Linked DNA regions of Homo sapiens. The protein of the gene in region 1 interacts with the protein of each later gene in a pairwise test. Each region holds a gene or a part of one and is shown in the gene's direction. Other genes may lie near its edges. The genes, in order: NOPCHAP1 and TBC1D23.

Region 1 (3,500 bases):
GATAGACTTACCAGCCTTTGTGTGTCTGAGAAAGTATTTTGCTTTCAGTTTTTGGAAGATGCTTTAATGGATTTAGAATTCTAGGTTGACAGTGTGGTTTTTTGCTTTTTCTGTTTTCTCCAGTACTTTAAAGACATCACTACACTTTCTTTTCAGTGGCATTGTTTCTGACGCCAGTGTCTACTGTCATTTTGTGTCATGAATATGGTGTTTCTTTTCTTCTCTGGCTGCCTTTAAGATTCCCTTCATTACTGGTTTTTACCGATTTTATGGTGATGTGCCCTTTGTAGTTTTCTTTGTGAGTCTTGAGCTTGGGTTTGTTGAACTTACTGGATCTATGGGTTTATAATTTTTATCAAATTTGGGAAATTTTTAGGGATGTTGTTGTTGCTTGCTCCTGTCTCGCCTCTCCTGAAGGGACTCCAATGACACCTAATTTTGCCAGTTGAGGTTGTCTCACAGCTCATTGATTGTTTGTTTGGGTCTTATGTTTTGTGTGTTTCAATTTGGATAGCTTCTATCGCTGATTTCGTTGAGTTCACTATTCTTCTATATTGTCTAATCTGTTAATTCTATCAAATGTATTTTTTCAAGGTAGATACAGTTTCCATCTCTAGAAGTTTGAGACTGTTTACATCTTTTTTTCTTTCCTTGTGTTTGTGCTTTTCTTTTCTTCCTTGAACATACAAAGTATATTTCTAAGAGCTGTTTTAACATTCTTATTGCTGATTCTGTCGTCTGCATCATTTCTGAATCTTTTTTCCCTACTCTTTATGGATTATGTTTTCCTGTTTATTTGCATGTTTGCTAATTTTTTATTAGATGTTGGACATTTTGAATATTATGGTGTTGTGTGTTGAGTATTATTTAATTTAGAAGAACCACGACTGGACTAGCCTCAGGGTTCAGCATATACTCTCCTAGAGTACCACGGAATTATTTGGCTTCTGAGGATCACAGTTCAGGCCGCACATTTTGGTACTTGTTTTGCTCTACTTGATTCATTAGTTGGAAACAAAAGCAGTACCAGATTTTCTATCTGTAGCAATATATTTAAATCTGAGGACAGAGAAATACCTTTATTTGTATTAGTAATTTCTCTTTCTGTAATCTGAAGGGGAATGAGAGCTAACATTCACTATTACGTCGGGCTTTATTTGTGTGCATGCTCTTAGGGAGTCCTTCCAGCACCTTATTTTACAAATAGAGGTCGTCTACTTGACCTTGGCCACTATTTTCTTTTCTTCTTCCATACGCTGGACATTTTAGTCATCTGTTATGTAGCCATAGCAGTTACATAAGTTTTGAGAGTCTGTTATATGCGTGGTTATGTGCTGGGCCTCTTTTGAGAGAGAAAATAAATATCCTTGTTTGTTGACTGCTCTGTATTTGGCACAGTGACTGACAGTTATCACTCCTCTTTTATGGATTAGTACGCTGAGGTTTCAAGAGGTAGAATTAAATGTATTAATTAGGATTCTTGGTTGCAAATGACTAAAATCCAGCTCAGATTGCCTTAAGCAAAAAAAGAAATTATGTTGGCTCTTTTTATTGGGGGAAAAATACTCCAGGCACAGTAGATTTCAGGTGCATCTGGATCCAGGTGCTCAGTGTCCTCAGAGGTCAGCCACTCTGTCTCTTAGTTCTGCTTTCCTGGGTATTGGCCTAATCTAGAGCGTACTCTTCCCCCAGGTGTGGAGAGTTGCCAGTTTATCAGCAGCTTCAGCCTTATATTCAGCCAACTCAGTCATTCACTCAGAAAGATTTCTCTCTCAACAGTTCCAACAAAAGGTCCTGAGTGATCTATTATTGGCCCGACTAGAGCAGCGTGTCACTGTGATGCCACTAAAGCATGGTACAGTGGCCAAGGATATGGAGGATGTAGGCATGTATGGGGTGAGGGGCAAGAGTGACTAAGAGTGACACAAGCTTAAAAGGAAAGCCAGGGTTATATTATCAGAAGAAAGGGAACGTATGTTGGGTAGGCAGAAATAACCACTACTTAATTAACTGGCCCAAGGTAATTCAGATAGAGGTAGAACTAGGATTCTGTACATACCTAGTTATTCGTACCCTAAAGCCTCAGAACCTGGTGCTCTTAACTGTTAAGTCACACTGCCTCCCTATTTAGTTACTATTTGTTGAATGCCAGCCTTCTAGGAGTTTACAGTCCTGGGGATATATGAGAAACATAAAACATTTGTGAAACAATTGCTGGATTGTGTAGTCCTACTGTTTTATTCAGAAGAGGATGGAGGGTTTTTAAATGAAGGGAACTAAAAGATATGTAATTATGGTTGTTATTATTAATACTCAATTCAGAAGTGTTTATAGGAAATCCTGGGTTTCAGAATTTACTAGCATAAATGTTGATATGCTGTATTTACTTTCCACAGTATTGGACCAGGTACAGACATTTCTCCCACAGATGGCACGGGCAAATGAAAAGCTAAGAAAAGAAATGGCAGCTGCACCACCTGGTCGTTTCAATATTGAAAACATTGATGGGCCTCATAGTAAAGTTATACAAATGGTAACTATGCTTTGTTTTCATATGGTGAAATTACTGGTCTGCCTGTCACCTAAGAAGAAGAGAACTTTTCCATTTTATTTTCAAGTTTTCATTTTCCTGGTGTTAGCTCATGTTTCCAATGTTGTATAGGTACATAGTCATTTTATGATTTAGTCATTTTAGTCATATGATGTCACAGGAAGGTTTTTTTTCCTAAGTCAAATGCTACATTTGTTATTCTGAAGCATTAATTTACTCGATGTCCTAACTGGGTTTTTTTCTGTCCAAGCCCCAAAAGAGGTAATCATAGCCTGATTTATTGAGTATGCAAAAATAAATGATGTGTGGAAGAGAGCAATTGATTACATAAGCTATGTGCAAAAATGTTCTCTCAGTTTATACTCATATCTTGTTTCTGCAGTGGAATTCCGTTTATAATATCTGTGTCTGGACCAAGCTGAGACAATTGTTAATAATATCTAATTCATTAGCCATTCTATTCAGCTCTCCCTCCAGAATAGATCCCAAATCCAACCACTTTGTACAACCTCTGCAGTTCCTTTGGACCTTTGTTGGCCCAGGTAATTATGGCCTCTCCTTTGGAGTATTGCAGCAATTTCTTAGCAGGTTTTCCTGCGTTCACTGTGCCTTCCCTGGGGTCCGTTGTTCACACAGTTTGGGACCTGGGGGCTTCCCATCACGTTTCAAATAAACTAAGTCCTTCAAAGGGTCCATATGATCCTGCCTGCAGTTCTCTATCTCAGAGGTTCCCAACCCCCAGGCTGTGGACTGGTACTGGTCTGTGGCCTGTTAGGAAGCAGGTCGCACAGCAGGAGGTGAGCGGTGGGTGAGAGCGCATTACCACCTGAGTTCTGCCTCCTGTCAGATCAGCAGTGGCATTAGATTCCAAAAGGAGCGTGAACCCTATTATGAACTGTGCATGTAAGGGATCCAGGTTGTTGTGCGCTCTTTATGAGATTCTAATGCC
Region 2 (4,034 bases), on another chromosome or scaffold:
TTTCTTCAGTTGTCTCATACATGTGTTTTTATGGGTGATTTGTTTAAATTTGAATTCTAGTAGGTCTACCTGTTGCATTTGGATATGTCACTTAAGATTCTTTAAATCAATACAGTTTATTTTACATTTTAAAAAAAACCTTACAAAACAGTGAAAACATTTGCTCAATTTATTAAGTATTCTTTTGTATAATTTTAAAATGTACATGGCACAGATGTACTTTTTCTTTGCCAGTACATTCTGTTGTTTTTACATTAAAAAAATTGATTGTGTAAATTTACATATCTAAATATATAAATATTTTGGGTAATTTATTGTATTCACTAAATCAACATGAAGAAATATCTAATGTAGGAGGACTTAAAATAATTCTGCTGGTTGTGACATGACTAAATACTCAACATTTGGTGGAGTATGGATACCTTAATTGTAATCTTTGTTATTATTTTTAAATTCAGGCCTTTAATTATTACAGCATATTTTCCAAGAATGAGGAATAACATATGAAGCTAGTCACTTTTTAAATCTTTCTTCCAGATTGCTCTGAATGTTGCAGGAAAAGGTGATAGTTTGGCATCATGGGATGGTATTTTAGACTTGCCAGAACAGAACACTATTCACAAAGATTGCCTGCAGTTTATTGGTAAGCTGAATAATCACTTTCAAGCAGAGTTAAATTTTGGAAATAATTTTTGGGTTGAGGAATCACTCTTCAGAATAATCTTATAATTTCAGAATTTGTAAAAGGCTTGTAAATAGCTTTAGAACTTTTCTTTGGAAATTCTTATGAAATATTGTCTATTAATTTTAAGGGAGCCTAGTTTTGACTGGGTGCAGTGACTCACACCTGAATCCCAGCACTTTGGGAGGCCAAGGCAGACAGATCACTTGAGGTCAAGAGTTCAAGACCAGCCTGGCCAACATGGCAAAACCCTGTCTCTACTAAAAAATACAAAAATTAGCCAGGTGTGGTGGTGGGCGCCTGTAGTCCCAGCTACTTGGGAGGCTGAGGCAGGAGAACTGCTTGAACACAGGAGGCAAAGGTTGCAGTGACCTGAGATCACACCACTGCACTCCAGCCTGGGCACAGAGTGAGACTCTATCTCAAAGAAACAAAAAAGATAACCTAGTTTTTACTGTTTCTTTTGCATTATATGTTAGATTTTTCATGTACATTTATGGGTTTGTTGTAGTCTTAAATTTGATTTTTATATAATTAAAGATCTATATGATTGTATGCAGCCCTCAAAGGGGAGCTTTGTTCCAAAAGTTTATCTATAAATCATAGTTTGTGGACTGCTGTAGAGAAACTACTATAAATTGTGATTGAATAGGTTTCCAGTCACCCCACAACATCTATTTCATTTCACAATGTGGATGAATTTAGTTTATACTTCTTTTAAATTCATCTCTAGTGCATTGTATTTTTGTTTCTCTTTCCATCATATTTTAGTTAAATTATTAGCTTGATAGGCCTATGTGTGGTAAGCACAGCAGAAACATTATTGCTGGTGTGGACAAAAGAAAGAATTTGATAGTGGAGAATGAATTCCTTTCCCTCTTCTTGCCAAAATTATAGCAACAACTGCCCATCATGGAGTAGGTGATAATCTGTTTAGAAAACCCTTTTGCTTCCCAGGAATATGGGCTATGCCTATCTTTACCTATCCCTTTAATTCAGATTGGCCATTCTTATGTTTGACATATATATAGATCAGGTATTACTAAGTGCTAATGTTTAGTAAATACTGAATGTATAGAAGTCTTCTGTTTCTTTCCCTTCTCTCTCAACAGACTAGGTAAGAAAACATGCTTAAGTGAAACTGTTATTCTTAATTTTCTTTAAATTTTCTTTAAACTGTCTTAAAGTTAAAAGACTGTTAGAAGGCCAGGCACAGTGGCCCATGCCTATAATCCCAGCACTTTGGGAGGCCGAGGCAGGCAGATCACCTGAGGTCAGGAGTTCGAGACCAGCCTGGCCAACATGGTGAAACCCTGTCTCTACTAAAAGTACAAAAATTTAGTTGGGTGTGGTGGTGCTTGCCTGTAATCCTGGCTACTCGGGAGGCTAAGGCAGAAGAATCACTTGAAATCGGGAGGTGGAGGTTGCAGTGAGCCAAGACCGTGCCATTGCACTCCAGCCTGGGTGACAAGCTAAACTCCGTCTCAAAAAAAAAAAAGGCTGTTATAAAGCGTTTTGACTGTGTGTTTTCCTTGGGTTTTGGATCTGTGAACCAATGATTGTTAAAATAAGTATAAGGGAAAATATACTTTCATGTAGTTTCACTTTGTCTTTCTCTAAATGCACTAACATAGTATTATATATTTGTAAACAAGTGTTATGTCCAATAACAGCCCCTGACAGGCCCTCAGTAACTTTATTTTTAACATTTATTTTCTAGACCAGCTTTCAGTGCCAGAGGAGAAGGCAGCAGAATTACTTTTGGATATTGAATCTGTAATTACCTTTTATTGTAAATCACGTAACATTAAATATAGCACATCCCTTAGCTGGATACATCTACTGAAACCATTGGTGCATCTTCAACTGCCACGCAGCGATTTATACAACTGCTTTTATGCCATAATGAATAAGTACATTCCCAGGTAAAATATGATTCAGTTATTGTAGTTTTTAAAAGTGAATACAGGCCTGGTTTGCTTTGAGCTAAAGTTGCTAGATTTACTTTGGCGGTAAAGTAAAAGGTTCAAATAATTTTGAGGATTGTTTGATCCATAATTGTTATTTTATTTTTGTGGTTATAAACATTTTTTAAAAGATTCTTTAGTTAAAAATGTATACTTCTGAAACAGTGGTTATACTGGGGTTGGAGTTGGGGAGGAAGTGGGGAGATTTAGGTCAAAAGGATACAAAATAGCAAATAGGTGTGATGAACAAGTCGAAAGACCTAATATGCAATGTGGGGACTCTAGTTAATAATAGTCTATTATATTGAAGATTTTTGCTAAATAAGTAGATTATAGCTGCTTTTGCCACAGAGGGGAAATTGGGAATATGAGATGATAGGTGCATTATTTTGTTCCACAATAGTAACCATTTTACTATGTATGTGTTTTTTATAACGTGTTGTATAATGCACAGAAATTTATTTTTAAAAAATAATTTAAAAATTAAAAATTTCTAGAGTTTATATATATAATTCTTCCAGTTTATTTGGTGGTATCCCTATTTTAATTTATTTGCCTATAAAATATTACAGTGTTCAGGTGAAAAGTAAAATTTCTGGGGTGTTACCTTATTGAGCTTGGAAGGAAGTCCTAGAAATATAGGCATTGAACAAGTAAATTGAAGTGTGCTGAATGTTAGAAAGGTGAAATATAGAGTGCTATGGGGATGTATAATGGGGGCAACCTAACTTACCTTGGAGGTCAGGGATGGCTTTCCCATGGTAAGTGGCATTTGAGACCAGACAGATGTGCAGGTGGTTGTGATGGGGGTTGTAGTGGGGGTCGTGGTGGTGGGCAGCACTCATGAGGCCAGAAAGAATTGTTGTAGTTCCCAGTGCAATAGATCAGATAGTTAGAATTTTAGTACCAAAAGAAACTTTAGACATAGTCTAGACTAGTGGCTTGGCTGTACAACCTTGAATGCACATTAGAACTATTGGGGGAGCTCTTAAAAATCCTAATGACTATTTGCATACATGAGTAATTAAATGAAAATCTCTTGGTGATGGGACCTAGGCATCAGTTTGTTTAGAGCTTACTAATTAATTTCAGCGTGTAGCCAAGGTGGAGAACCGCTAATCTGGACCTTGATAGTTAACTGACTCTTATTTTTTACTACTTTCTAAGTGATACCACACTGTATGAGGTATAAGTGTTTTGTATGGTTCTCTACCCTGGTTGCTTGTTAGAATCAACTGAAGCACTTTTTCTTTTTTTAAATAACGACTTTATTGAGATATAATTTATATTCCATAAAATTCACCATTTTAATGTGTACAATTCACTGGTTTTAATTATAGTCACAGAGTTGTACAGCCATAACCACAACCAATTTTAGAACATTT

Evidence for each region.
Region 2: the proteins of NOPCHAP1 (region 1) and TBC1D23 interact in a two-hybrid assay, tested with the Homo sapiens proteins (one large-scale study listed by BioGRID and IntAct).

Annotation. Positions count from the first base shown.
Region 1 is NC_000012.12:104,989,316-104,992,815, forward strand, and holds part of NOPCHAP1 (NOP protein chaperone 1), read left to right. Parts: intron 1-2,396; coding exon 2,397-2,533; intron 2,534-3,500. UniProt on the Homo sapiens protein: Client-loading PAQosome/R2TP complex cofactor that selects NOP58 to promote box C/D small nucleolar ribonucleoprotein (snoRNP) assembly. Acts as a bridge between NOP58 and the R2TP complex via RUVBL1:RUVBL2.
Region 2 is NC_000003.12:100,281,205-100,285,238, forward strand, and holds part of TBC1D23 (TBC1 domain family member 23), read left to right. Parts: intron 1-537; coding exon 538-643; intron 644-2,402; coding exon 2,403-2,607; intron 2,608-4,034. UniProt on the Homo sapiens protein: Putative Rab GTPase-activating protein which plays a role in vesicular trafficking. Involved in endosome-to-Golgi trafficking.